4 linked regions of the Homo sapiens genome follow. The protein of the gene in region 1 interacts with the protein of each later gene in a pairwise test. Each region holds a gene or a part of one and is shown in the gene's direction. Other genes may lie near its edges. The genes, in order: GOLT1B, SLC10A6, SAR1A and SHISAL2A.

The links.
Region 2: the proteins of GOLT1B (region 1) and SLC10A6 interact in binary tests that used the Homo sapiens proteins (3 or more experiments, as listed by UniProt).
Region 3: the proteins of GOLT1B (region 1) and SAR1A interact in binary tests that used the Homo sapiens proteins (3 or more experiments, as listed by UniProt).
Region 4: the proteins of GOLT1B (region 1) and SHISAL2A interact in binary tests that used the Homo sapiens proteins (3 or more experiments, as listed by UniProt).

What each region holds. Positions count from the first base shown.
Region 1 is NC_000012.12:21,497,734-21,505,356, forward strand, and holds the start of GOLT1B (vesicle transport protein GOT1B), read left to right. Parts: upstream 1-4,055; 5' UTR 4,056-4,190; coding exon 4,191-4,215; intron 4,216-7,623. Other genes in the region: RECQL (ATP-dependent DNA helicase Q1), read right to left, coding at 1,822-1,837. UniProt on the Homo sapiens protein: May be involved in fusion of ER-derived transport vesicles with the Golgi complex.
Region 2 is NC_000004.12:86,824,948-86,832,779, reverse strand, and holds part of SLC10A6 (sodium-dependent organic anion transporter), read left to right. Parts: intron 1-899; coding exon 900-988; intron 989-4,611; coding exon 4,612-4,787; intron 4,788-7,202; coding exon 7,203-7,360; intron 7,361-7,832. UniProt on the Homo sapiens protein: Transports sulfoconjugated steroid hormones from the extracellular compartment into the cytosol in a sodium-dependent manner without hydrolysis.
Region 3 is NC_000010.11:70,160,505-70,167,514, reverse strand, and holds part of SAR1A (small COPII coat GTPase SAR1A), read left to right. Parts: intron 1-4,755; exon of another isoform or gene 4,756-4,825; intron 4,826-5,583; 5' UTR 5,584-5,599; coding exon 5,600-5,657; intron 5,658-5,776; coding exon 5,777-5,896; intron 5,897-6,445; coding exon 6,446-6,511; intron 6,512-7,010. UniProt on the Homo sapiens protein: Small GTPase that cycles between an active GTP-bound and an inactive GDP-bound state and mainly functions in vesicle-mediated endoplasmic reticulum (ER) to Golgi transport.
Region 4 is NC_000001.11:52,636,168-52,643,999, forward strand, and holds part of SHISAL2A (protein shisa-like-2A), read left to right. Parts: intron 1-3,807; exon of another isoform or gene 3,808-3,900; intron 3,901-6,695; coding exon 6,696-6,835; intron 6,836-7,832.

The sequences.
Region 1 (7,623 bases):
CACACTTGTCCTTGCACAACGAAGTCAAGAACAAAGTGCCTTCTGCAACATGGACTGCCACTCACGAAGACCCATCTGGCTACATCCAGAGCTAAGTGCTCAACCTGCAAACAGCTCATACCAACCTTGAGTTCCAATGGAGGCACCATTCTCTGTGGGGACAGACAGATGCTTGATGGCAAAGTGACCGCATTGGAACCGTCTATAATGAAAGAGGCAGCACTTTGTTCTCACTGATACAGATGCTTACTCCGGATATGAATTTACCATACCTGCCTGCAGTGCTCTATCATGTCCACCATCCAGGAATTCACGGAATTCCTACTGATTGTCATCGTATTCCCCACCAAATTACTTCTGACCAAAGAACTCATTTACAGCAAACAAAGCACAACAGAAGGCTAATGTTCAAGATATTAACTGGTCTAACTATGTTCACCAACAACCTGCAGCAGCTAGCCTGAGAAAATAATGGAGTGGCATTTTGCAGACTCAATTATGCTGCCAGCTGGGTATCAGCACTTTAAGGGCTGGACTAGTAGCCTCCAGGATATGGCATGCTATACATCAGTGAATAGTGCTGTTTCTCCCATTGCCACGATTCACGGGAATCAGCGGTGGAAATGGGAGTGGCTCTTCTATTACCCTTAGTGATCCGCTAGTGAAATTTTTGCTTCCCATCCTTGAAACATCGGACTCTTGCTGGCCTAGAGGTCTTGGTTACCAAGAAAGAAATGCTTGTACCAGGGGAAAAAGCAATAGTTCCATTAAACTGGAAGTTGACTGCCACTTGGCCACTTTGGGTTCCTCATGCCAACAAATGAACAGGCAAAGAAGGCGATTACTATACTTGCTGGGGTAAGTGATCCTGACTATTAAGGGGAAATCAGATAGCTACTACACTATAGGGATAAGGAAGAGTATGTCTGGAAAGCAGAAGATCCTCTAGTGCACCTCTCAGTATTCCCTTACCTTGTGATTAAAGTTAATTGAAAACTATAATAACCAAATATAGGAAACTACTAAGGCAAGTAGTCCCCACCAAGCAAAGACCCATTACCAACTGAGAACCAAGGAATACAGAATGGGTAGTTGAAGAAGGCAGTTATAAAGTACAAACTATGATCACATGACCAATTGAAAAACAAGAACTGTAATAGCTATAAGTCTTTCTTGCTTTTTAAAATTTGTATATAAACCAAGTTTGGGTTTTTCCTTTTATTTGGTCCCTCTCCGATACATTACAGTATTACCAAGGAGGACATGATTCAGCAAGAAGAGAAATGAGCATCACCCAAAGACGAATAAAGATAATTTGTACCTGCTCTTTTGGGGAAGGGGTCAGTGTATACTCAGCAGTAAGAGAAATAGGCAAAAGCATGATTCCGCTATTGCCTTTATTTGGACACAAATAAGGTAAAAATTAGACACAAAAGGACAAATGTTATATGATTCCATTTATATGAGGTACCTAAAATAGTCAAGAAACAGAAAGTAGAATAGTGGCTATCAGGGATTAGGAGAAGAGAAGTAATGGAAAGTTACGGATTAATGAGTATAGAATTTTAGTCTGGATAGATGAAAAAGCTCTGGAGATGGATAGTGGTGACGACTGCACAACAGTCTAAATGCATTTAATGCCAATGAATTATTCACTTAATAATGGTTAGCATGGCAAAGTTTGTAATGTGTATTTTACTTCAATAAAAAAGCTGAAAAAAATCATTTCTATAATCAGAATTTTTAAAACAAACTTTTTCAAATATCATACAAACAGAAATAGAACAGAAGGAAGAAGAAAATGTAATCATTGCTACTAACCTGAAACGGACGCCATTCTTTTTCTTTCCAAATTTGTTTCTAAAATAATCCAAATTTCTTTCTAAAAATAAAAGCACAACAGTGACAACAAGTTTTTAAAAATAGTACTATTAATGATGTTCACTCAACAGTAATCTGTCATTCCTAAGCACGGAAAATGTTAGAAAGTAAATTATATATTGCAGTGACCTTTCAAATAAGAACCACATGGTTCTTTTGACACTAATTTTTTATGGAAAACTCTATATTTCAGCTTAATAACCCACAACACTCAGAACGACTAACTCTCTAGATTTCAGAGAAGTGTCCAAAGTCACATAAACGTATACATGACAAATACAGTAGCAATGACACTCAGCAAACATCCACAAGATACAAAGTGATGTAACAAAAAACAGCAAACATTCAACAGGTCTAGCACCAATTGCTATGTGACTAAATTACTATGTTAGGCAAAGTTGCATATGCTGTTCCTCCAAGCCTCTTTCCCTACCTGTAAAACTGGGAGGATGGCAATCTTATAAATAAGTTGGATAGATTCAAATGTACCAGATTAAGCAAAATACATCAACATAAATAATAAAATTAATCATCTAACATTTTATTGAGCCCTTGCGTTAAAGAATTACAATATAAGCCCAATCTTAAAAGAGAAACTGGTATTCTACAGAAAAGCTAGATTTTCTAAGTTAGAGGTGGGGGGAGGGGAAAATGGTTTGTAATGATTTCTAAGTATCTATGAATGACTAAAACCTAAGCATGCATATGGACAAGTGGAAAATGGGGCTGGAGAGTAGAAACTTTAAATTCCCCATAATCCTAAAAACACCTCTTCTATCTCTCTAATATGGACATTTTCTAAAACTAAGATGCTCTCCAAAAGTCACTTCTGCAACACCTATCCTTAGACTGCTGACCTTACGCCCTTTCTACACAGAATTCTGAAGCCACCACTAGGCCGGAAAGATAGGCTGACTCTTTTTTGCCTTGCTAAAGAATGTGGAATAACCACACCATTAAAAGAAGGCTAAATAGGAGAGTAAACCAAGGATTTCTAATTCTTGATCTATACAAACATCTCTTCACGTAATGAAAATGTAACATTCCTTCCATAGACTGTAAGGTCCTTTAGCAGGGCTGGGGTTCAATCTCTTCACCTTTGTATCCGCACAGCCCAGGAAAATGCCTTGATGTAGTGAGGGCTCAGGTTTGCTAAGGTAGCAGGGGCTGTTTCTACCCTTATGAAAAGACACAGTCTATATCCAATTCTCCCCCACGATTTTAAATGACTCCTTTGATTATGCGGTTAAAAGACTGCTCCTTCCCAAAATGATGTGATTTAACAGCAAAAGATATCTCAACATAAAATGTATCCAGAAATTGAACTACAGCAGGTCTGTCACTCAGCAGTATAAGCTAGGCATCCACAGGAAGAATGTTACAGGGTGACAGCCAGTCATCAATGTTGGAGGAAACGCCACTGAGATACCATAGGCTAAATCCTCTCTCTCCCCGCCACCTGCATTTAGAGGCAATAGTAATTTAATATTAATAACGCCCGCCCTTCCGCTACTGTGAAGCAGGGGGTGGAAGAAGCATCCCCAGTAGTATTTACCAACAAATGGCAGCTGCTAATAAACAGGCTTTGGTGGCCAATCCTCCTGCATGGAAAAGAATGGGGAGATCAGAAGACCGGTCAGCAGGCGAACGTGCCCCTAAAGGCCCGAGTTCTCAGAGCAGGGCAGTGATTAACTTTCCGGTTTCTCCTCCGCCAATGTGTGGGCGAAAGGAAGTGATCCGCTACAGACCGGCCTCGCCCTGCAGCAGGAAAGGGAAGGATGAAACAAAAAGCGCACACCCTTGACCCTTCAAAGCTGTAACAGTAGTTATCCCAGAGCCTCTCCCCACCGAGAAGCCCGGTCTAACTCTCCGGTGTTTGACTGTCCGGTGTCCGACTGTCCTGTGTCCGACTCTCCGATCTCCGACTCTCGGATCTCCGACACCAAAGCACCCAGGCCTCGAGCAGATCTTTCCGCTACTCGGGAGTAAAATCTTCCCGCCAGCCAGCTGAGAGCATCCACCCTTCCGGGTCGGTCCGTTCAGCCAATCACAGATAACTCCCTTCTCTAATTGGTCAAGGGGTGTGGTCACCATGCGCGTCACCGAACAACATTACGAGTTATTGGTTGAGATTGGAAGCAGGTTTCGCCAATAGGAAGCGCTCTTAAAGCGGCAGTGAGGGTGGCTGCGTGTTTCCGGAAGACGTGGCGGCTCTCGCCTGGGCTGTTTCCCGGCTTCATTTCTCCCGACTCAGCTTCCCACCCTGGGCTTTCCGAGGTGCTGTCGCCGCTGTCCCCACCACTGCAGCCATGATCTCCTTAACGGACACGCAGAGTAAGCACCTGCTCCGGGGCCCCCGCCTCGAGCCGCGCACACCCATCGCCCGGCTGGGTCTCGCCCCTCCGCCGGGGTCAATGAATGAAGCTCTGGGTTGGGGGCGGTGGCCTGCGAGACAGAGCTAGGGCTGCTGGGACCCTAAGGGGCTGCCTTCGGGATGCCGGGGCTAGACTTGGACTGGCGGACCTGACCTGGGAGAAGAGTCTGTGGGGCAGGGTGGGACGCCCTATGTTGGGAGGGGAGCTTTAGCCCAGAGTCTGTCTCATTCCAGGGTCGCGCTGATCTCCTCATCCCCAGTGAGATGGGCGCTTTGTTCTAGGGGCTTGCCACAAGAGAAAGTTTGCGTGGTGCCCGCGGCCCACTCTCGGGATCGTTTATGCGCATGACACACTTCGGGTCCTCTACAAGTCCCTGGCTGGCTGGTTATTTGGGAGGCGGTATTTTAAATGTCACCTACAGTAGGCTCTTTTTGAAAATGTCCTTACGCTTAAATGTGGCATTTTGAATATTCGCTTTTTGCCAGTACTGTAAGCAACCTTTTAGAAGTCTCTTGAAACATTCTCACTTTTCTACCTGCTAAAGTTTCAAGCAGTAGAGAAAAGCCACTTTGTGTGCCATTAAAGGATATATTTCGTTAGTATTGTATATTGTGCTTTGTGGCTTGTTTTATTATTTTAGCATCGCTCTCTGCCTGCCACAGAGTTCTCCAGGCCTATTTCATCTCTAAAGCTAGCATTGATATCGGTTTCCTTTTCTTTCATTATAATATTTCCACTTTCCTACTGCTTTTTGTTAATATTAATAATTTTTGTATTTATGTCTGCCCAAGCTCTGTACCTCATATTTTGATGTTCATAAGAGTCTCTTTTTGTCTCACTTTGCTTTATCTGCCACGCCTTTCATTTCACTCCAGTTAACTCAGATTTTCAATATTTTAAGACTTAAACAGTGAATTGAAGTGAAAAATAGAAGTTTATTTAAAATGCCCTATTTTAAAGTGGAGTCTTCTTGTGGAGATTCAAGTCATGGCAGACCAACTTCACAGAGCTTCTAAGGCCTCCTACACACACTGCCACCCCCCAATCAGGCTGTCTTCCCTCCTGAGGCTGGACTGGGGCTGCCTCTTGGGGCCACCTGCCCCAAGGTTGCCGCCCACTTTGGTCCATTGGCCTGGCCTGTTCTGATCAAAGAAAATAAAAGTGTAGTCTTGAGGGGATAGGAATCTAGTGTAATAATAATTACTGGCAATTATATAAAGGTATTTTCTTTCAGTTAACCATGTGCTTTCATGTGAATCATTATGCATAATTCTTATAAGAGCCCTGTAAGGCTCACAGAAGCATGCCCCTTTCATAAGTTAAATGAGGCACAAAAGAAATTGAGTGCATGGTCAAAGAAAAAGTGACAGAAACAAAACTTGATCCCAGGTGTGCTGGCTCAGAAACCTTTTGCACTGTACCCCACTATCACCTAAGAAGACTTGATATAAACTTTATTTGAGATCTGAGAATAATCTGTGCATAGAAATTATATTTTTGAAGACTTAATATAGTGATGAGTGCCTGCTTTATAAAAACAAGAGAGTGGGTTTGGACTATGGGCATTCTCCCTGAGAAGCATTCTCCTCACTTCATTAAATTTTGTGAGGGCAATGAAATTTTACTCTTTGCTGTTCACTTGTCACATGTTTTAGGTGAAACAGTGGATTGAAACATAAAACGATTAGTGAACCAAATGCATTTTGGATTTCAAATTGTGTTTGTGTGTGAGTGTGTTTAACTGCAGGGATTGGCCATCATTCAAGTGATTTGTCAGGATTATTCTGGGATTTTGGTTTTTAGAGAGTGGCCAAGCACTGCTCAGAGTAGAATAAATGGAAATTCATGATTATTTTAAGGCATTCTAGGACTTTCCTCACCGCCCCAAAAAAGACAAGACTTATTCAGAGGGGCGGAGGAGGGGCATGCTGCCTCTAAATCTTCATTTCATCACATTGTCTAAAAGCCTAGTGTGATAATTGCATTCTCCAGTACAGTTAATGTTCAATTGAATTCTTGCTTGACTTCTGTTTTTCAAAGGGTATGGTAAGAGAGACAATGCTGCTTTTAAAAAATTGTGAATAAGATATCAAAATGCTAACAGTGTTTGCCATTAGATTATGCGTGTCTTTCCTTATACAATTTCCACAGTATGCTCCTTATGTTAGACAGATTCGTTTTATTAAATTGTTTTTATATTTTTTTTAACTTGTGGACAGTTTTTTAAACATGTGGGAGGAGTGAAGGAAGATAAGTTTGTTTTACTGGATATGATTCCGATGGGAAGAAGGCAGCTCTATGCAAGGCTTTTGATAGCCAGAGGGCTTATGAATGCATACGGATAGGGAAAAGGGGGATCCTGGAGGTGAGAAAAAGGCACAATGAGGCCAATTTGAGACTTTTGACCAGTGTGGATCAGGAGCTACTTGGCAATGTCATTGCCAGTACCAGTTGTGGCAAAGATGTTTTGGGCAATGTCTCCCGCTGGACTGTACTGGATAAAGTAGTGGAATATTTTGGTTCCCATGTTGTAGTTGTAGGACCATTGTCTGTGGAGTGAGAAGACTGGTTGAATGCTGACTTCACAGACTGTTGTACCTGCCTCCATACCACCAGCACCCACACACACATTTTTGCTGCTTCTATGATCAAGAACAAGTTACTGAATTACCTCTAGGTCCATGGTTGCACATATGAACCATAGGACCAGTGCTACCTTTTACCTCACAATTTTGTTAAAGAAATTATAAAATTTTTGTATAAACACTTCATAACACGGTAAACCATACTCAGAGATTGGCCTTTTTGACCGCAGTTAATTTTTAATAGTTCTACTTGGCTATGTTAGATAACAAGCTAATATTAAACTTGAATCCCCTAAAAGATGCGTCCCCCAGAAGTTCAGAATACTCCAGTGTCCTTGAGTTTCATGTAACCAAACACCTTTAACCTAAAAAATAAAAATTCTGTGGGAAGAGGTATGGCATTAATGGTTAAGCACATGAGCTTTGGATTCAAAAGACCTTGGTTCGAATGCTTATCTAGAAGTGTGGCTTTAGGCAACTTAAGTCAACTCTCTAAACTTCAATTTCCTCCATCTTTAAAAAGATGTAATTATACCTGCATTCCAGTAGTATTGGAAGTATTAAGTTATATATAAGGTATGTGAAGCACTTCATAAGGCCTAATTCGTGGTAAATTCTCAGTACATAGTAGGTGTCTTTCCATATACCTTCCTTTCTAAAAACATCTCAGAATTTTTATGTAATCATCAAGGTTATTTGTGAAATGATAGAAATTAGTCATCTTCAACTAACAAAGCTGCCGATGTTTAATCCTAACTACTAAATAGTTATTTAATAGAATT
Region 2 (7,832 bases), on another chromosome or scaffold:
GTCTCACCCATATCTCTTTCATTATCTCCTCTTCTGAATATTATTTCTCATGAAAGTCTGCCATTTTCCTAAAGATCTCTGTGGGTTTAGCAAGCTTAGAAGAGAAATGTGGTGAAATGATCTGCCTTTTCTAGTGTGGTCAGTTTTTGAAAAAGTGATAGGCACTATGTTTTTTTGTTTTTTTTTTTTGAGACAGAGTTTTGCTCTGTCACTCAGGCTGGAGTGCAGTCGTGCAATCTCGGCTCACTGCAACTTCTGCCTTCTCCTGCCTCAGCCTTCCGAGTAGCTGGTACTACAGGTGCAGGCCACCACACCCGGCTAATTTTTTTGGTATTTTAGGAGAGACAGGGTTTCACCGTGTTGCCCAGGCTGGTCTCAAACTCCTGAGCTCAGGCAGTCCACCCACCTTGGCCTCCCAAAGTGCTAGGATTACAGGTGTAAGCCACCGTGCCTGGCCAACACTATGATTCTTAAGACTCTCAGTGTCAATCTGGTGTCTCAGGTAAACACCTTGAAGGCTTACAACCCATGGCCCATAGTTCAAAACCATGAATGAACCCACTTCCTCACAATAGCGGGAGCCCACTGAATCTGTAAAATTTGAGGGAAACCTTAATTTAGAAACCATGATTTTATGTGCAACTTTTTTTCTGATCAGTAAGTTATTTAATATATTCTGCTTTGATAATATGTTCTGAAAGGCACTCACAAGACGCAAAATGTTATGAGCAGCTTATATAACTTTGGAGCCAATATTGTAGGCATTTATCCAGACTTGGGAAGTGGCATGGGAAAATGTCAGTTTAAAGCTGTTACCTAATTGAAATAGAAGTTGTTGGGAAGTACTGTGCAGTCAGGGTGAGAGGGAAAACCCTCTCATGGATTTTTCTTCTCTTTAGGAATTACCCTTGTGTGCCTGACCATTCCTGTGGCCTTTGGTGTCTATGTGAATTACAGATGGCCAAAACAATCCAAAATCATTCTCAAGGTGAGTGACTTCATGGCCACTGTTGGCACGTCCTCAGACTCAGGGGCCTGAAAGACAGAAGTGAGCAGTGGCTGGGACAAGTGAGCTTGTTGAGTACGGCCCCACACCCAGAAATTCTTCTTACACATCCTGTGGTTTTGGATCCAGGGATCATATTTCCTCCACCCTGTAAGCCTTGCTTTGCCACTCCCATAGTTCTGTACCCTGAGGCTTATGACGCCCTGGAAAATAAGCAACTATTGATTTAGTGTCAGGAAAGCTAAAGCCTGTGTGTGGACAGAAGAGCCCAGGCCCATCCATAAACAAGGCTTCACACAGGTGCTCTTGAGGCAGAAGCTGTTCAAGTGAGCATGAAAGGGAACCCCAGTGTTTAGTAATATGGCTGGTTTCTTGGAAGAGTAGGAGGAAGGGCTGTCTTGCAGAAGCATTCCTGGGGTCACGGCCAAAGCTGTTGTTTGTACACATGAGCAAGGGCTGCTGACTACATGAATAAGACTGTTTAAATGAAATCATCCAGGAAGCACTGAGGAGTCTAGCTATGGAATGATGGTGACTAGAACTTTCTACCTCCTCTTGTCTTTGCAGTCCTGCCCTTTGTCTGCTGGAGAAACAAGCAAATGTCTTTGTTAAATGGCTTTTAAAAATAATTCAAGAGGCCAGGTGCAGTGGCTCACATCTGTAATCCCAGAACTTTGGCAGGCTGAGGTGGGAGGATTGCTTGAGGCCAGGAGGTTGAGGCTACAGTGAGCCATTATCATGCCATTGCACTGGAGCCTGGATCACAGAGTGAGACCCCATCTCTAAAAAATGAAACAAAACAACAAAACGTAAAGAGGAGGCATTCTTAACAATGGTGTGAGTCTCCTAGGGTGCTTTCCATTTTTTTTCTGATTATGTATCACTTTAGCAGATAGAAGGTTGTAATATGTGTGGCTTTCATGAAGATTTTAAAAATGTTTCAGTTATATTTTACATTTATAAAGAAGTAAACATTTGGGGTTATTTAGAGTTTCATGTAGTAAATCTCAGTTAATTTTGTTTTCTGGTTTATGGTTTGGCTTGGTTTAAGCTTTTGCCGTTTGGCTCTACCTCACAGAACATTGCCACTCTATATGCCTGTGCTAATGGACACTGTTTTCCCAGTTATGCACAAGGCCAAACCATTCCCACCATTCCTTCAGTGCGATGGAGAATGAGAGGAGAGGGCTTGCCAAGCAGAAAATCAGCTGGGCACAGAGAGCTGGAGGATGGCTTAGTATAGTACATTTGTATTGCATATGGATGACTTTAACATCAATAGTGCACACCTGATTTTCACTCTCCTTTTTTAGCTGTACTCATGGAATAAAGTCCCATCTTTTCCACATTTATTTTTAAAAATTAATTAAGTTTTTGAGATAGGGTCTCGCTCTGTCACTCAGGCTGGAGTGCAATGACACGATCATAGCTCACTGCAACCTTGATCTCCTAGGCTCAAATGATGCTCCCATCTCAAGCTCTGAGGTAGCTAGCACTACAGGCATGCACCATCCTGCCCTGCTAATAAAAAGATTTTTTTTTTAGAGACAGGGTCTTGCTATGTTACCCAGGCTGGTTTGCAACTCCTGGCCTCAAGGGATCCTCTGGCCTTGGCCTCCCAAAGTGTTGGGATCACAGGCATGAGCCACTGTGCCTGGCCCCTTTTCCACATTTATTATTGTTATTTCAGTAGGAGAAAATTTCCAGTGTGGTAGTTATGATTTTGTTTACAAAACAAGAGGAGGGAAATGATCATGGAAACTTCTTGCTTTTCAAGTACTCTATCTTTGATTATTTTTCTTAAAAGGGCATTTAACAACAATAACAAAAATAATGCTTTTGGAGTTTTCCAGCTCCTCTATCAGTCCATCAGTGTCAATGGAGAAACCAGATACATTTTTTTACATGTCAGTTTTATTTTCTGTAACGAGCAAATTTAAAACTCTTTTCTTTTGGGTATTTCATAGGATTTATGGCAAAACATTTAATAATATGCATAAATATTCTAGACTACCTTAGTAAAAAAAAAAAACTAGGCTAATGTAATCATTATTTTAGTATATCTTCATTCCCTGTTCTTAGTTCCATTTTAATTTTAGATCTGACACATTTTCTGAACAAACTTAAGTGTTCCCCATTTGCTCTTGGTGGATATTAAACTTTGAAATCTTTGGTAGAGAGAGGAAGAGGGGATGTTACATTCAGAGGCCTTAGTTCCATTTTAATTTTAGATCTGACACATTTTCTGAACAAACTTAAGTGTTCCCCATTTGCTCTTGGTGGATATTAAACTTTGAAATCTTTGGTAGAGAGAGGAAGAGGGGATGTTACATTCAGAGGCTTTCTTTCTTTCATTTTTTTTTTAAACGGAGTCTTGCTCTGTCACCCAGGCTGGAGTGCAGTGGCGCAATCTTGGCTCACTGCAACCTCCACCTCCTGGGTTCAAGTAATTCTCCTGCCTCAGCCTCTTGAGTAGCTGGGATTACAGGCATGTGTCACCACGCCTGGCTAATTTTTGTATTTTTTAGTAGAGACAGGATTTTGCCATGTTGGCTGGATGGTCTTGAACTCCTGACCTCAGGTGATCCGCCCACCTCTGCCTCCCAAAGTTCTGGGATTACAGACATGAGCCACCATGCCTGACCAAGAGGCTTTCTTGTCTTAGCATCTTTTTCTTAGGCAGGGGTCTAGTCTGTCTCTGTATTTGAACAGTAAAAATGACCCCCAGAACACATTTATGGTATATTGGGTCATTCTGTTTGTTTGTTGTCTTCTCTAGTTTCCTACGACCATCCTCCTTCACATCCTGAATCATTTCAAATCAAGGTTGACACTGTAACTAGGTACACAGTTTACTGTCTACATGATATGAACAGGAGCTTGCCAAGATCCTGATTTTCCCAAAATACCCTAGGTTATGCTTTCTTCCTATTTTATCTAAATCTCAAACTATTCAAAATTTTGTTATTGTTGGCTTTTGTTTCTGTTCTTGTTAAACAACAAAAGTAAGGACAGTATCCATTTGGGAGAGGATAGAGGTCTCCATCAGTATTTCTCATGTGATCATGAGTATTAGCTCAGATTGTCCAATGAAGAATGGGTAAATTTTATTTGGAGGGGAGAAGGACAGGGATCAAAGCAGCAGGCAGCTGCTGGTGGTTGAAGGGGCGGTGGGAGGGGAGGCAGATGGTCAGGCAGGGCAGACGTCAGACTGGAGGTCACAAGCAGAGGGTCATAGAGGTGTGTGCAGGGGTGTTGGAAGCTCATTGTCAGATTCCATTCATTTTACACTTTTGTTCTACCCACAATAGAACTCTACTACCCAATCCTTTTGGCAAAATCTTCTACTTGAAGAGAAAGGTAGATATGCTAAAGCGAGACTTAGATTTGTGTCAAACTCCACCAATTTCTAGCATAGGCAAGTTACTTGACCACTTTGGAACTCAGATTTCTCCTCTACTAAATGAAATTGTATTTAGTCATCTCTAAGTCCCTTCTTTGTTCTAAAATTTCTAGATCCCAAGCATTTTACAACCTTGATGGACTTTGTATCATAGAGCAAAAAACCCTGAGTTTATATTCACTTATTTTATTGTTTGCTTCAGATTGGGGCCGTTGTTGGTGGGGTCCTCCTTCTGGTGGTCGCAGTTGCTGGTGTGGTCCTGGCGAAAGGATCTTGGAATTCAGACATCACCCTTCTGACCATCAGTTTCATCTTTCCTTTGATTGGCCATGTCACGGGTTTTCTGCTGGCACTTTTTACCCACCAGTCTTGGCAAAGGTATAGTTAAACTATCCATAAACTTTTTTGAGGAAGGTAAATTTAACACACTGCCACTGGTAGGCTTTGCTGCCTGTGTCAGGAGACATGAAGAGTTTTGACTTACATAGTGGAATCGACAGGATAACTAAGCATAAAAGAGGGTCATTCATGGCAATTCATGGAAAATATTGTGGTAATTCTTTATGTAAATTAAAGCAAAGGCCAAATTGATAGGAAGAGATAAATTTAAGTTAAAAAAGAATAGAAAACGACATGATTTGATTCCCACTTCGTAGAAGAAAGCAAAAAGAATTCTATGCATCAAAATATACTGGAAGAAATACACCATATGGTAACAATGTTTAATTTTGAGTAGCGAAATTAAGGATAATTTTAGTTCTTTAGTATTTCCTTGGTATATTTTTGAAGCTTTTCAATAAGTATGTACTACTTTTAAAAGCAGAAAAAAATTACTAAAGAAGAGTAAACTATGCAGTTGAATTCCAAAGGTGAAAGTTGGGAATTTTTAATTGGCTTTATGCTACTTCTAATCCACTTGGGGAACATTTAGGGTTGTACTAAGCGCCCGGTAAAGCTTTACCCCATCTATCTCATTTACTTCTTACTACAAGCTTGAGAAGTAGATCCTATCACTACCCTCATTCTACTGATGAGCAGACCCTTCAGAGAAATTAAGTGACTTGACCAAGTTCATAGAGCTAGAAAATTGTGGAGTTAGGATTTGGACCTGGGTTTGTTTCCAAATTTAACAATTAGGAACACAGTCTGTTGAGTGGTTGAAATGCAATTGGCTCTGGACAGAAAGTACTCCTATGGCAAGATGTAGTCCACAATCCCATCTTTTTCATACCTGATAGCCTGACAAAGCCCAGGACTGAGATTTGGCTCATGAATGGTGCAGGTGTGAGTTCCAGCTTTGTAGCTTAATCATATCGAGTTTTTGACAAAAGTCTCAAAGAAGTGAGGGTGGTTTGAGACAAGTGTAGCAAGCAATAGAATAAGTAGAAATAACGTATGAACACAGAGCTTGCCCTGTACCATTGACAGCATTTTCACCCCCTCATTACACACCCTTGTTACTTCCCCATTCCAGTCCAGCTTGCACAGAGGTGCTTGTTTGTTTTCTGAAACACCTCTTTTATCTCCTCACTTCCACATATAAAACACTGCAGGCTCCCTTTATAAACTGGAGACGTGAAACTGCTTAACTCAGCCCTCAACATCCTGCCCAGGTCTTCCCTCTATTCCCTCCTTTGTCTTTTCAAATGAGGTTTACTTCATTTTATGCAACCAGAAAACCAATAAAGTATAGAAAAGTAGAAAGCAAAAAGAAAAATTATTACCAAACTCTTTCACCAAAGATAATCATTTTAGGAATTTGGTCTTTATTCAGGGTTTTTGTGTTTTTATTTATTTATTTATTTATTTATTTATTTATTTATTGAGACCTCGTTGCCCAGGCTGGAGTGCAACCTCTGCCTCCTGGATTCAAGTGATTCTCGTGCCTCAGCCTCCCGAGTAGCTGGGATTACAGGAGCGTGTGCCACCACGCCAGGCTAATTTTTGTATTTTTGGTAGGGACAGGGTTTCACCATGTTGGCCAGGCTGGTCTCGAACTCCTGACCTCAGGTGATCCACCCACCTTGGTCTCTCAAAGTGCTGAGATTACAGGCGTGAGCCACTGTGCCTGGCCTTGTTTATTTGTTTTTAAGTGTTGGTTAGTTTATATTGTTTCATATGTCTTTCAAAAATATATATACGTTTTTCTTTTTGTAGAGACAGGGTCTTACTCTGTTGCCCAGGGTGGTCTTGAATTCCTGGCTCAAGCAATCTTCCCGCTTCTGCCTCTCAGTGCTGGGATTCCAGGCATGAGCCACCATGTCCTGCATCATATCTCTAACTCAACTTTCCATTCTTGTCTCCTCCAGTCCTCTCCTCTCTGCAGATTGGCTTACAGTATATGCAATGCCTGCTGAACAGGCCACACTCACACCTCTCCCTGGAACTTTAATTTTTATAATATTTCCCCCTCATCAAAAGCTTCTTCTATTTTTTTCCATCCTTAAATCCCACTCCTCTGTGAAGCCTTCTCTCACCCCTTCTGCCATTTTCTAAATTTCTACATCTGCGTGGCCTTTGGCCATACTTTGTCTTGTGTTGTTGCTGAACCTCTCCTGTGTGTTTATCTTGTCTTTTTACTCAGATGCCTAGGGCAGGGTTTGCAAAGCCTCACTCCACCGTGCCTCTCAGAAGACCACCTGCAGAATAGGCACTCAGCAAATAACTATGGAATGAGTACACATTTTCAGTGGCCTGAGGTCATAGCTTCTAATTGTTATGATGCATATGAGAAAATATTAGAATAGTTCTTATTGCTAGTGCGTTACTCTTGAAACATTTTCTTTTTGGTAGGTGCAGGACAATTTCCTTAGAAACTGGAGCTCAGAATATTCAGATGTGCATCACCATGCTCCAGTTATCTTTCACTGCTGAGCACTTGGTCCAGATGTTGAGTTTCCCACTGGCCTATGGACTCTTCCAGCTGATAGATGGATTTCTTATTGTTGCAGGTGGGTGAACACCCATTGGGTAGGAAATAACTGACGGGAAATTGTTCACCCCAACTTACCAACTTTTTTTTCAATCCAAACTTGCATGTGCTGCCCCTGTGATACACTTTTTGAAAGCCTGACATTTCTGGGGACGATAAGGCACATAGACAGGATAGTTTGGCGCACAAGTGGGAGTTTCACAGAAAAATATAAAAAGCCATCTGAAAATGAGCTTATAATTATAAACAAATATACTTCACAAAAGTGAATCCACTATCAGAACTTAGACTTCGTAACTTGTTAAGACAAGATCTCTATGAGCAATCATTGAGCTCCAAAGTGACATTTGCTGCACTTAAGCGTTGATTTGTTAGGTCTCATTAAAAGCCTTGAGGTCTCCCAAATGCCAAGTTATTTCAATGTTTCTGTGACTAAGACTTGTGCTGAATGGCTGTGAAATGTTTTTCAAATATTAAATATTACACATATA
Region 3 (7,010 bases), on another chromosome or scaffold:
TCTCCTGCCTCAGCCTTCTGCATAGCTGGGATTACAAGCAAGCGCTGCCGCGCCCAGCTGTTCATTTTATTCTTCATCTGGCATTCTTTGAATGTAAGGGGATTTTTTTGTGGGTAATGCTTTTACTGGTTACTGTTCATGAAAATTTTGAATGCAGTTGGTCATATCTAGTATAAAGCCCTGTGTTCAGATGCTCCTGCTGATGGAGAGGAGTAAAAGTGTGGACCTTCCATTTTTCTGCACCGCATCTGAGATACTAAAGCAAAAATTCAGCATGGCCAGACAATGCTGAGAAACCTTAAGACCCACCAGTGTGTCTAGATCCTACCCTCTTAATTTCATTCAGAGGTCATTTTGCTTATTACCAATATATGTAAACCTTTTAGTAGCTTTTGATAGCTATGAGAAACAATAGAAAAAGTAGTGTTAATATCAGTACCAGTTAAGTTATTTACTGGCTTGGGAACTTACTGCTATATCCTGAAAAGTATTCTTTTTTTGCTTTTTTGTTTCTTGAGACAGGGTCTTGCTCTGCCACCCAGGCTGGGGTGCAGTGACACAATCATAGCTCACGGCAGCCTCAAATTCCTGGGCTCAAGCAATCCTCTTGCCTCAGCCTCCCAAGTAGCTGGAACTACAAGCACGTGCCACCATGCCTGACTAATTTTAATTTTTTTTTTTTTTTTTTGTAGAGATGCAGGTCTCTCTATGTTACCCAGGCTGGTCTTGAACTCCTGAGGTCAGGGAGGAATCCCCCACCTCAGCCTTGCAAAATGCTGGGATTACAGGTGTGAGCCACGGGGGCCCGGCCTGAATAAGTATTCTTATTTTAAGAAAATCTATTTGTAAAATGAGTTTGGGTGTGATTATTCATGTATGAAAAGATTCTCTTCTTATCCCTTAATGGTTCTCTAAAATAGTGATGTCATTTCTTTTTATAAATTGAGACCCGTGTCTGCAAAAATGATTAAATATTGAGATAACATTGGTAAATGGAGCAGGGCAAGTGGTGCTGGCCAGTAGAATTTTGGGTGACTTTTGTTTTTTAGAGTTGTTTACAGGATAGATTAATATGTTTTTCATTCAAATCAATGTGCTTTTCATTCTTATTTTCTATTTAGTGCATCTAAGTGGCATTCTGATTCACATTATTGATAAGACTGATTTCCTAGAGTTGTTCTTCACTGGATGACAGCAGTCGTATGTCTAGGGAATGTGAATGAACCGCTGCCTGGAGGAGTAAGTCACACAGTAAAAGAAAGTGTAGGCATACCTCGGATATACTGTGAGTTTAGTTCCAGACTACTGAAATAAAACAAGTACAGTAAAGCAAGTAACACGAATATTTTGGTTTCCTAGTGCACATAAAAGTTACGTTTACACTATACTGTAGTCTGTTAAGTGTACAGTAGCATTACGTCTTAGAAAATACGTACCTTATTTAAAAAATACTTTATGGCTAAAAAATGCTAACAAGCATCGGAGCCTTCTGCGAGTCATAACCTCTTTGCTGGTTGGGGATCTTACCTCCATGTTACTCCACGTTGATAGCTGTTGACTGATCAGGTTGATGATTGCTAAAGGTTGGGATGGCTGTGGCAGTTTCTTAAAATAAGACAACAAGGAAGTTTGTTGCATCAGTTAATGCTTGTTTTCAAGAAAGATTTCTCTGTAGCATGCAATGCTGTTTGATAGCATTTTACCCAAAGCAGAATTTATTTCAAAATTGGAACCAGTCCTCTTAAACCCTGCTGCTGCTCAAGTAAGTTTATGTAAACTCAAGTAAGTTTTTGTAATTTTCTAAATTGTTGGTGTCATTTCAACAGTATTCATAGCATCTTCACCAGGACTAGATTCCATCTCAAAAAAACCACTTTTTTTGCTTATCCATAAGAAGCATCTCTTTATCCATTAGTTTGATCATGAAATTACAGCAGTTGTCACATCTTCAGGCTCTACTTCTAATTCTAGTTCTCTTGCTGTTTCTACCACATCTAAGGTTACTTCTTCCTCCAAAGTCTCGAACCCCTCAAAGTTTTCCACGAGGGTTGGAATCACTGTCTTCCTAACTCCTGTTAATATTGATATTTTGACCTCTTCCCGTGAATCATAACTGTTCTTACTGGTACCTAGAATGGTGACTCCTTTCCAGGAGGTTTTCAGTTTACTTTGCCCAGATCCAGCAGAGAAATCAGTCTATGGCATTGATGGCTTTGTGAAATATATTTCTTTTTTTTTTTTTTTTTTTTTGAGACGGAGTCTCGCTCTGTCGCCCAGGCTGGAGTGCAGTGGCGGGATCTCGGCTCACTGCAAGCTCCGCCTCCCGGGTTCACGCCATTCTCCTGCCTCAGCCTCCCAAGTAGCTGGGACCACAGGCGCCCGCCACTACGCCCGGCTAATTTTTTGTATTTTTAGTAGAGACGGGGTTTCACCGTTTTAGCCGGGATGGTCTCGATCTCCTGACCTCGTGATCCGCCCGCCTCGGCCTCCCAAAGGAAATATATTTCTTAAATGAAAGACTGGCAAATCGAAAATACTCCTTGATCCATGGGAAGCAGAATGGATGTTGTTAGTAGACATTAAAACAACATTAACTTCTTTCTGCACCTCCATCAAAGCCCATGGGTGACCAGGTGCGTTGTCAATGAGCAGTAATATCTTCAAATCTTTTTTTCTGAGCAATAGGTCTTCACAGTGGGCTTAAAATACTTAGTAAACCATGCTGTAAACAGATGTGTGGTAGGCAGAGTAGATTTAGTATAATTCTTTTTTTAATTGTAATTTTTTTAATTGGAAAACAAATACACAACTTGGAATGGATTTGAGGCAAATTGTGCCATAAGCACATTTTCTTTAAGTGGCTAAACAAAGTTTAAAAAGCAAGTAACAGTAAAAGAAAATGTTTCTGGTACAGGACCAGCAGTACAGAAAAAACAGTGTGTGAGGTACCTGGGAGTACCTGGATAATACACCCATTCTGCAGTAGTGCAACTTTTAAGTACATATTGTTGGCTGTCCGTAGTCCACACAGAGTTACAACTCCATACTTCAACACCATGCTGACAGTTCCTAAAGAAAACTACTTTAAAAAAAGGCATAACCCGGATGTTCCCTTATTTGACCAACTCCACCTAAGTTTAGATGTGCAGAAGGGCTTAGATATATCCGGAGTAAGCCACAGGCAACATGTTACTTCATCAGTTTTCTAAAATAAGGTTTCAGGGCAATGACAGTAAGGGAAGAACACATGGAGGAATGAAGTCCTGATTACCATACATGCATATTTTTTTTTGACAGTAGGGAGAAGCCTTTTACAGATAAGTTACAAACAAAAGGCAAATAAACAGTTTTGTGCAAGAAATTTAACACATTCTGTACAAGGTCTTCATTATGCTGTCATCATTTGTACAAACTCATAGTTTACTTGACCATCACCATCAGGATCTGCTTCCCTGATCATTTAATCAACTTCTTCATCTGTTAACTTCACTCCAAGGTTTGTCATCACATGGTGAAGTTCTACACCACTAATATAGCCATTGCCATCCTTATCAAACACACAGAATGTTTCTCTAATTTCTTCTTCACTGTCTGTGTCTTTCATTTTTCTTGCCATCATTGTCAGAAATTCAGGGAAGTCAATTGTGCCATTACCATCAGCATCTACTTCATTAATCATGTCCTGTAACTCTGCTTCTGTGGGATTCTGCCTGAGACCTCATTACAGTTCCTAGTTTCTTTGTTGTTATAGTTCCATCACCATCTTTGTCAAATAGTGAAAAAACTTCTTTGAATTCTACAATCTGCTCCTCAGTCAGTTGGTCAGCCATGCTGCAAGTGCTACTGGTTTCCGAGACGCAACCACACAACCACTCTGCTCGCTCACTTGCTCCACTTGGACTGATTTAGTGTCATTCTTCAGGGCCCTAGGATTTTCAAAATGGTAAATGAGTATGGGTCCTAGGATTTTCAGAATGGTAAATGAGTATGGGTCCTAGGATTTTCAGAATGGTAAATGAATATTGGCCTCAACGTAAAGTCACCTTGCATTAGCCCATAACAAGAGAGTCAGCTTGCCCCTTGAAGCTTTGAAGCCAAGCAATGACATCTCCCCTCTAGCTATGAAAGTCCTAGATGGCTTTTCAAATAGAAGGCTGTTTTGCCTACATTGAAAATGTGTTGTTTAGTGTAGCCACCCACCTTCATCAGTTATCTTGCTGCAGCTTCTACATCAGCACTTGCTTTTTTACCTCGTGTTTTTATTTTATTATTATTTTTTATCAGCAATAAGGCTGTTTCATTTTCTTGACGTTCATGGGTTTGCTGGAGTAGCACTTTTAATTTTCTTCAAGAACTTTTCCTTTGCATTTGCAATTTGGGTAACTGTTGAGTGCAAGAGGCCTAGCTTCTGGCTTATCTCAGGTTTTGATGTGTCTTCGTCACTAAGCTTAATCATTTCTAACTTTTGCTTTCAAGGGAGAGACCTGTTACTTTCACTTGGAGAATAGGGAGGCTTGGGGTGGGGGCAGGACTGTGGAGGAAGTCAAGTTTGCTGTCTTCTATGGTTGTGGTTTGTGGCACAACAAAACAATTATACTAGTAATACCAAAGATCACTGATCATAGATCATGATGACAGATATAAGAATAATGAAAAAGTTTGAAATATTGTGTGAGAATTACCAAAATGTAACATAGAGACATGAAGGGAGCACATGCTGTTAGAAGATGGTACTGATACACTTACTCAACTCAGGGCTGCTTCCAACCTTCAATTTGTAAAAAAACCAGAAAACCTCAGGATCCACAAAGTATCATCAAATGAGGTATGCCTTTATATTTTTAACTCCTAGTTCTCTGAGTATCATAGATCAAAAACTATTAGGAAACAAGTTATTTTTGCACATATAAGGATTCTAGACTCTCCTCCAGATTGCAAAATCTGTGTCAAGAAAGAATATTAGTTTCTCTTTACTTTGCTTCCTCCCCTCCCCTTCCATCCCCTCCTCCCCTTCCCCTCCTCCCCTCCCCCTCCTCCCCTGCCCCGCCTCCCCTCCCCTCTCTTTTCTTTTCTTTTCCTTTCCTTTCCTTTCCCTTTCCCTTTCCCTTTCCCTTTCCTTTTCCCTTTCCCTTTCCCTTTCCCTTCCCTTTCCTTTCTCCTGTCCTGTCCTGTCTTTTTTATCAGAGTCTCCCTCTGTTGCCCAAGTGAGTGCAGTGGCACCGTCATGCCTCACTGCAGCCTCAAACCCCTGGGTTCAAGTAATTCTTCTGTCTCACCCTCCTGAGTAGCTGGGACTCTTGGTGTGTGTCATTATGTCCAGCTATTTTTTTAGTTATTTGTAGAGATTGAGTCCAGCTTTCTTGCCCAGGCCAGTTGTGAACTCCTGGGCTCAAGTGATCCGCCTGCCTTGGCTTTCCCAAATGCTGGGATTCCAGGTGTGAGCCACCATGCCTGGCCTGCTTTCTTATTCCCGAAAACAAGAGACTATAAATGTGCATCATGGCTAGGGAACAAGAGTTAACCTCTCCACAATTGTACTGTCATTCAGAAAGCTAATGTTTGCTACTTTCATATTTTATACAGGTAGTAAGCATTAATAATGTCTTTCATCTTTGAGTGGATCTACAATGGCTTCAGCAGTGTGCTCCAGTTCCTAGGTAAAGCCATTTCCTTGAAATACAGGTTTCAAAGTTTGTGCCTTTCCCTCAGTAATTTAACTACAAATAGGCTTTGGTCTGTAGAGAGCAAATGTGTTAACAATTTTTTTCTCTTTTAGGACTGTACAAGAAATCTGGAAAACTTGTATTCTTAGGTTTGGATAATGCAGGCAAAACCACTCTTCTTCACATGCTCAAAGATGACAGATTGGGCCAACATGTTCCAACACTACATCCGAGTAGGTTTGAAAATATCAGGTGACCTTTTGATCTTTAAAGGTCAGTGTTAGGCGTGGAGGATGAATCCCTAGTTGGTGGAGTTCTTTTATTAACTGAAGTCCCAAAAGCCAACTCATACGAGAAAGTTCCCTGTAAGACACACTCAGGTTATGTACTTTCAGATCTAAACCTCTGGAACTTTGTCATTATCTGTTGTCACTGGTCCTGTAAAGGGACACCTCTCCTATACCTACTTCTAAGAAGTGGAAAATAGCTTGGAAGAAAAGAAACCTTTGGCTTTTAGAATAGTTTAAGAACATTTCACCCTTGTATTCCTTTTCTTTGTTGGGAGTGGGGCGTTGCCTGGGCTGGTCTCAAAAATCCTGGGCTCAGATTATCCTCCTGCCCTCAGCCTCCTGAGTAGCTGGAACTACAGGCGGGTACCACCACACTCAACTTCTTGTATCTTTTTCTTTACAAGATGAAAGCATTGATATTGGCTTATAGTACTAGTAGTTGGGGGTTGTTGAGTTGACAAGTTTTTTTCTTCTTTTTAAACAATTTTTCAGCATCAGAAGAGCTAACAATTGCTGGAATGACCTTTACAACTTTTGATCTTGGTGGGCACGAGCAAGGTAAGTGATGACTCAGTGGAAAGCATGTTTATTGACTTATTTTTTTTGTGCCTCCCAGCTCCTTTTAAAAGCAGTGTGTCATTTTTACCTTTTAAATTACTTACATTTTAGAATTAGGATCTTATTACTTTAGTGAAGTTGTTTTATTCATTTATTTTTTTAAGTAATTTCAAACTTGTCAAAAGTTGCATTAAATAATACACAGAAGTCCCCTTCAATATTACCCTATTGAGCTGGGATAAAGTTAGCCATAATGTATAACTATTCATGAACTTTTAAGTATTTGCCTGATATAGCCAAACTCAACTCAAATCTTGACTGAAAATTTTTACAAAGCAGGACAGCATCTTGCCATTTTAATCTTTACTACATTTTTACTTATTAATGTAATTTACCTTGTAACTGGAAAATATGTTAAAAGATATATGTATTGCTTCAACAAGAGTAATTATTTCATCATTTTAACTAGGCTTGCCCTAAGCCAGTATATTTTCTTCTA
Region 4 (7,832 bases), on another chromosome or scaffold:
TCCTAGTATTTTCTCTCAACTTTAAAATGGTGATAGAGATATTTGTGTGATAGTACAGAGACAGTGTGGAGCTTTGGGGCTGGTCAGAATCTGTCACTTATTATCTATGTGGATTGGAAAAGTTATTTAACTTCCTAGTATTTTCTCTCAACTTTAAAATGGTGATAGAGATATTTGTGTGATAGTACAGAGACAGTGTGGAGCTTTGGGGCTGGTCAGAATCTGTCACTTATTATCTATGTGGATTGGAAAAGTTATTTAACTTCCTAGTATTTTCTCTCAACTTTAAAATGGTGATAGAGATATTTGTGTGATGGAATTGTAAGAACTAAGAGAAATAATGCACATGAAAGTGACCAGTGCATATGTTAGGTGCTCAATAAGAGAGTTCCCTTTCCTTGGTTCATAGGTGTGGGAAGTGAAATTCAGTGTGGAAGTGAATTGTCCGAGATCTCCTAGCAATATCATAGCAGACTGAGACTTAAAGAACATTACCTAAGACTATCCAAGGGTTAGATGCTCTCACACATTCACAACCCTGGCACTTCTCATTTTACACATGAGAAAACTTGAGAAAGGTTAAGTTACTATCTGGGAGTGTCCCAGTGAGAGGCAGTGGCAGAGCTGGGTTGAAAACTCAGGCCTGTCTCATCTCAAGCCCTGGCTTGTCCTGTCTACTACTGTCTGGATCTCTCTTAACAACCTGATCCACTCAGATCATCTGAAAAATACTCACTGACCCTCTAGTGTCTTCTGGGCACTGTGCTGGCCCCTGGGGACACAGAGGTGAGTAATTCTCTCAGCACCCAGCCAGGACCCTTTCCCTCTTCCACTAACCCCTTCCCTACACAGCTCTTGTGTCTTGTGGTCCCTTCCGTTGCCCTGGAAACTCTGACGTGGCATGCTTTAGTGGCTCAGACAATGCTTTCTTCGGGGGTTGGATGGGCTGATCTCTGGGGTAACATCCCATGTCAGTGTGTTCCCATTCTGTGACCCCAAGGTGGCTAAAGGCTCTAGGGTGACTCTTCCTGGACTCAGACATAATGTGATTCATAAATACCACAGACAATTGCAAAGTGCAGGAGAGGAACTGAAAGTCCTCAGGATGTCTAGGGCATCAACGTGCTCTGAACCTTGAAATAACTCTTCCGGCATGCTCCTAACAGAGCCCGGATATTGCAGGGTGGAGACCTTGTTTTGCTGTAAATTCCGTTTGGCCCTTTTCATGAAAGTCAGTCCTTAAAAACTTCAAAATCTCCAGGTAAGCACTGTTTCCTGGGAGAGACAGTGCTCAAGGAGAATTGCTATCTTTAAAATTGTGCCTCAGGAAGTGAAGACACCCTGTGGAGAAGCAGTTGGTGCTGTCACACCGTCTGGTCCACTTGCCAAACACCCTCCTCCATCACTAGTTCTGTTTTTTTACGAGGGTGTGAGCCAGAAGACAGCAGCCTTGCCGGAAGGCAGAGTTTGTGGTCAGACCGTGTCTACAGCACCTCATTTCATCCTTCCCACCACCTGGTGAGATAGAAACCTTTATAAAGGAAGAAAATGAAGGTCAGAGTGGTAAAGTGATTTTTCAGCTTAAATGTGGCAGAACCAGGATTTGAACTTAGAACTACCTGACTCCAAAGCCCTTGGTTGTTAGATTGTCCCTCCAATTCTTTCTTAGGAGTCACAGTGGGTTTTTATCTTTCAGAGTCAGAACAGTAAAATCCTCGAAGACTCGAGGCTCTCTAATTCAATTTCCTACCCAGGGTAGGAATCTCTAACTTCACTGAAAGATATAACTCATTCGTGTGTCCTGCACAAGCTTCTCCCATGACAGGGACTCATCCCTGCTTGAGGCAGTACATTCACCATGGAACAACTCGGATCATTTGAAGTTCATCTCATGCCAAGCACAGATTTTCCTTCTTTGGAGCCTGCCCTGTTGTTCCCAACTCTGTCCTTGGAGTTTAGTTCCTCTGTCACCAGGACAGACCAGCAGAGACAGTGCCTGCCCCCTGACTGACCTCCGATCTGGAATGTATCACCCCAGAGTCAGGGAAGAGGATGGGCAAGAAAGCTGGAGAAAGAATGGTAGACAGGGACAAACAAAACTCTCCCCCTCACTCCTCAAAGGGCCTCTCTTAGAGGCCCCTTTCTATCCAGGAACCCAGAGTTGTCCCACACACGGGTCCCAAGCAAAGCACAATTCTCCTAGATAACAGCCCTACGAACAGTAAGCATATCTCAAATGAGAAAATAATGTTTAATTAAAGTAACTAAAGAACTAAAAAGCCCTACATACTCAATGTAAAAAATGTGAAAAGGACAAGAGAAATGAAAAGAGAAAGAAGTCATGAGTAATCCAGTGTCTAAGCTTGGATTCACCAGGAGACTCTGAGATGAGGATTTGATGGCAAGTAGTTTATGTGGAAAGTGATCCCAAAAATCACTGGTAGAGGATAAGAAAGTGAGACAGGGAGAGAAAGAAGCCAACAATGGGTGTATTACCAAGCAAATTACACCAGAGGTAACTGGAGCTTAAACTCTGCCAGCCAGTGTAGAATGTACTCCTCAGGGTTATCCCACCTGACGGCCAGGAAGCTGGATATTTAGCTAACAATTTCTGTCAGTCATCGGTCATGGGCTGGTGGGGTAAGGAAGGTATTGATTATCCTGCACTATTGACTTGCCAGTGTGTCCACAGAGCCTGTTCTGGGCCCAAGAAACCCCTCAGACAAAGAGGTAACAGCTGTTTGCAATAGAAACTTTGGCCAGGATAGCCAAGGCGGGCAGATTGCTTGAGCCTAAGAGTTGGAGACAACCTTGGGCAACATGGTGAAACCCAGTCTGTAAAAAGAAATATTAAAATTAGCTCGGTGTGGTGGCACATGCCTGTAGTCCCAGCTACTCAACAGGCTGAGGCAGGAGGATCACTTGAGCCCGGAAGGTTGAGGTTGCAGTGAGCCATGATGGTGCCACTGTACTCCAGCCTGGGTGGTAGAGTGAGATCCTGTCTCAGAAAAGAAAAAAAAAAAGAAGGAAACTTTGGCTAGAGTATCAGAATATTCCACAATGATAAGATCCAAGGGGCCCCAGACAGGACATCCACATCCTGAACTATACCCAGAGACAGCCTGTTAGTTGGTGTATCTCCATCAACCTTGCATGTGTACATGTGTATAGTTATGCATATATGTATACTTATTTAGTTAAATTGGGGTTATGCCATGTAATTAGTAGTGTGTCCTGCTCTTTTCAATTAATATTATCAATAAGTTCATAAAGATTTATCCATTATCTTAGATATTAAAATCTAGGCTGGGCGTGGTAGCTTACGCCTGTAATCCCAGCACTTTAGGAGGCCGAGGCGGGCGGATCACGAGGTCAGGAGATCGAGACCATCCTGGCTAACACGGTGAAACCCTGTCTCTATTAAAATTACAAAAAATTAGCCGGGCGTGGTGGCGGGTGCTTGTAGTCCCAGCTACTCGGGAGGCTGAGGCAGGAGAATGGCATGAACCTGGGAGGCGGAGCTTGCAGTGAGCCAAGATTGCACCACTGCACTCCAGCCGGGGCGACAGAGTGAGACTCCATCTCAAAAAACAAAACAAAACATATTAAAATCTAAAAGATCTGAAAACATTTTTTTTTGAGACAGGGTCTTGCTCTGTCACCTAGGCTGGAGTGCAGTGGCACCATCATGTCTCACTGCAGCCTCCACCTCCCGGGCTCCAGCAACCCTCTCGCCTCAGCCTCCTGAGTAGCTGAGACTACAGGCATGTGGTCACCATGACAGGCTAATTTTTGTATTTTTTGTAGAAATGGGGTTTCACCATGTTGCCCAGGCTGGTCTTGAATTCCTGGACTCAAGTGATCGGCCCACCTTGTCATCCCAAAGTGCTGAGATTACAGGTATGAGCCACATCGCCCTGCCTGAAAACATCTATATCATTAATAAGGTCTCTATATATGCTATACTGTTCCATTGCAGAGATGTCCAATAATTTATTTAGCCATGGGAAGGCAGACTCTTCAAAGCTCTCAGGTGTTTTGGTTGAGTGAAATTAGCCATTAACTAACAGGGAGCGAAATCCTGCAGAAGTGGCAAGGGCAGGTGTCTGGGGCCAGAGTCAGGGAAGAAAATGGGCAGGAGAGCTAGAGAAGAAAGGGTAGGCAAGGACAAAGCCTGATGCCACCTATACCTTCTCATTGGGAGAGTGTTCCATAACACCTGACACATAGTAGGTACCAAAGGATATTTACCAACTGCCTACCACATGCCAGGGCCTAGACAATGGGAGGATAAGGCTGATTAAACATGGTCTTGGCCGGACACGGTAGCTCACGCCTGTAATCCCAGCACTTTGGGAGGTCAAGGGCGGGGGAATCACTTGAGGTCTGAAATCCCGCCTACCAGGGAGGCTGAGGCAGGAGAATCAAGACTCTGTCTCAAAACAAAAAAAAAAACAAACAAAAAAAAACATATTTGGTCTCTGCCCCTGGTTCCTGAGTTGAAGCTCCTAAAGCCCTTGTAGATAGAGATGCTAGGAGCATCATTTGTTCTAAAATTTGGTCTCTGAACCCCGAGTTCCTGACGCAGAGCTCCTAAATTCCTTATAATTTCCTGGGTGATAGGAGCATCTTTTGTTCTAATGAGATGACTCATGGTGGGCTCCTGGAGAGCCTTAGGATGGGGGCTGGTTGCCGGGGAAACCAACCATGTGATTAGAGCACTGGAACTTACAGCCCCACCTCACTCCAACCTCCAGGGAGGGGAGAGGGCCCAGAGGTTGAGTTGATCACCAATGGTAATCAATCATGCCTATGTAATGAAGCCTCCATAAAATCCCGAAGACAGGGTTTAGAGAACTTCTGGATTGCTGAACACGTGGAGGTCCCTGGAGGGTTGTGTGATTGGAGACCAGATGGAAGCTCCACGCCCCTCCCTTATACCTTGCCTTATGTATCTCTTCCATCTGGCCATTCAACTGTATCCTTTGTAATATCCTTCCTAATCAACTGGTAAACATAAGTGTTTTTTTGAGTTCAGTGAGCTGTCCTAGCAAATTAATCAACCCCAAGGAAGGGGCAATGGGCACACTGATTTATAGCTGGTGGGTCAGAAGTATAGGTGACAACCTACTACTTGCAATTGGTATGGGAGGGCAGGAGGGAGTCTTGTGGGACTGAGCCCGTAACCTGTGGGAGCTGACACTATTTGCCTAGAGATGGTTCCAGAATTGATGGTGTCTGCTGGAGAATTGCTTGACGTGTGGGGAAAACCCCCCCATACATCTGGTGTCAGAAGTGTTGTGTTGAGTGTTGTGGGAGGAAAAAAGGAAGCTGTTTCTTCCTTCAGACCAGGTGACCAAGGCCTGACTTGGGGCCAGAGGCAGTGAGGTTGGAGGGTGAGGGACCAGCAGTGGAGGTATTTGAGACATGGAGTTGACACTGACGTTGTCAGCAGAACCATGGAGGTTGGGTCAGAAGTTACCTGAGGCTTGCCTGGGCACGGTTGGCTCATGCTTGTAATCCCAACATTTTGGGAGGTTGAGGTGAGAGGATTGCTTGAGGCCAGAAGTTTGAGACCAGCCTGGACAACATAGCAAAACCTGGTCTCTATTTTCTTTTTTTTAAAAAAAGAGGCGGGGGTGAGTGGGAGGGGGTGCCAGCATGGTGGCTCATGCCTGTAATCTCAGCACTTTGGGAGGCCAAAATGAGTAGATTGCTTGAGCTCAAGAATTTAAGACCAGCCTGGGCAACATGGCAAAACCCCATCTCTTCAAAAAATACAAAAACATAGCTGGGCGTGGTGGCACATGCCTGTGGTCCCAGCCATTTGGGAGGCTGAGGTGGGAGGATTGCTTGAGCCCAGGAGGTTGAGGATGCAGTGAGCCTAGATGGCAACACTGCAGTTCAATCTGGGTGACAGAGCAAGAACTTGTCTTAAAACAAAAAGAAAAGAAATTACCTAAGGCTGGAAGGAGAGCTGGCTTTTAACTAAGGCCTACTATATGTGTCTTGATTCTTAAGAAACAGCAGTATGGGGGGGTCCCCTAAGACCATCTCCAGGTCCCTGGGGTGGGAGCAGGTGAGGAAAGTAGGGAGGGAAGGAGATGGTGCTGCTGAGCGGGGTCAGGTATGAGTCCTTGGTGGTGAGTCCTTGGCATATAGTTGGTGCACTTTCTTTCCCATGCTGAAGCATAGAAAGCTTGTTTAAGACAAGTAGGGACAAAACAAAAGTCAAAGCTGATTCCTACAACACAACACTAATTTTTTTTTTTTTTTGAGATGGAGTCTTGCTCTGTCACCCAAGCTGGAGTGCAGTGGCACGATCTCGGCTCACTGCAACCTCCGCCTCCCGAGTTCAAGTGATTCTCGTGCCTCAGCCTCCCGAGTAGGTGAGATTACAGATTACAGGAGCCCACTACCACATCCAGCTAAGTTTTGTATTTTTAGTGTTTAGACCATGTTGACCAGGCCGGTCTTGAATCCTGACCCTAAGTGATCTGCCCGCCTCGGCCTCCCAAATTGCTGGGATTACAGGCATGGGCCACTATGCCTGGCCTAAAATTTTTTTTAAATATTTTTATTCTGTACATTTTCTTCCCAGCAGGCTCATTCTAGCCTAGCTACAACACTTTTATAACATCTGTCTCCCAAGTCCCTTCCTGACTCTCAGCTCCCATGTGGTCTTCTCTTCCCAGCATTGGCGCTCTCATAGGCCTGTCCGTAGCAGCAGTGGTTCTTCTCGCCTTCATTGTTACCGCCTGTGTGCTCTGCTACCTGTTCATCAGCTCTAAGCCCCACACAAAGTTGGACCTGGGCTTGAGCTTACAGACAGCAGGTAAGGAAGTTGCCAGGTGATGTCCTTGTATTCGGTAGACTAGCACCTTTTCAAGGGGGGAGAAATGTAGAAATGATGTTTGGAACATTTGCCTCATGACTATTCCTGGAATATGCAGAAGCAGCGGCACATTTTTCTGGAGATTCGTGATCTAAACATTTCCATCCTAAACTCTTCATGTTTACATTGTTTGTCAAAATAATTTAATGTAGACAACACTCCATTTGTCACACAAAGATTAATCCATGTTGTGGATTGTTTAAGATGATGTTTTAATTTTAGCCTTGGGGAATGCAAACTGATTTTAATATTAACCCAAACAAAATAGAATTAATTTTTAAAATCTGCTGCTTCCAAACTCATAATTTATCAGAAACGAAATACAAGCGCTTTTATTGTGTGTATGCGTTTTTTTAAATAATCTGATGTTCCAGACTACCCATTTCTTCATTAGTATAGGTTATCAAGTGCCTCTAAGGGGCCAAAAATAAAGTGTTGCTTTTTCACAAGCCTTTTTTGCACACATTTTGACAACATCCTGAAAGATATTATGAAAGATACAAGTCTCTGGGCTAGGCGCGGTGGCTCACGCCTGTAATCCCAGCACTTTGGGAGGCCGAGGCAGGCGGATCATGAGGTCAGGAGTTCAAGACCAGCATGACCAACATGGTGAAACCCTGTCTCTACTAAAAATACAAAAATTAGCCAGGCATGGTGGCAGGCGCCTATAATCCCAGCTACTCAGGAGGCTGAGGCAGGAGAATCGCTTGAACCTGGGAGATGGAGGTTGCAGTGAGCCGAGATGGCGCCATTGCACTCCAGCCTGGGCGACAGAGTGAGACTGTCTCAGAAAGAAAGAAAGAAAGAAAGAGAGAAAGAGAGAGAGAGAGAGGGAGGGAGGGAGGGAAGGAGGGAGTAAGGAAGGGAGAGAAAGAGAAAGGAAGGAAGGAAGGGAGGAAGGAAGTCTCTATTGGCAAAAGATCTTTCAGTATAGTTT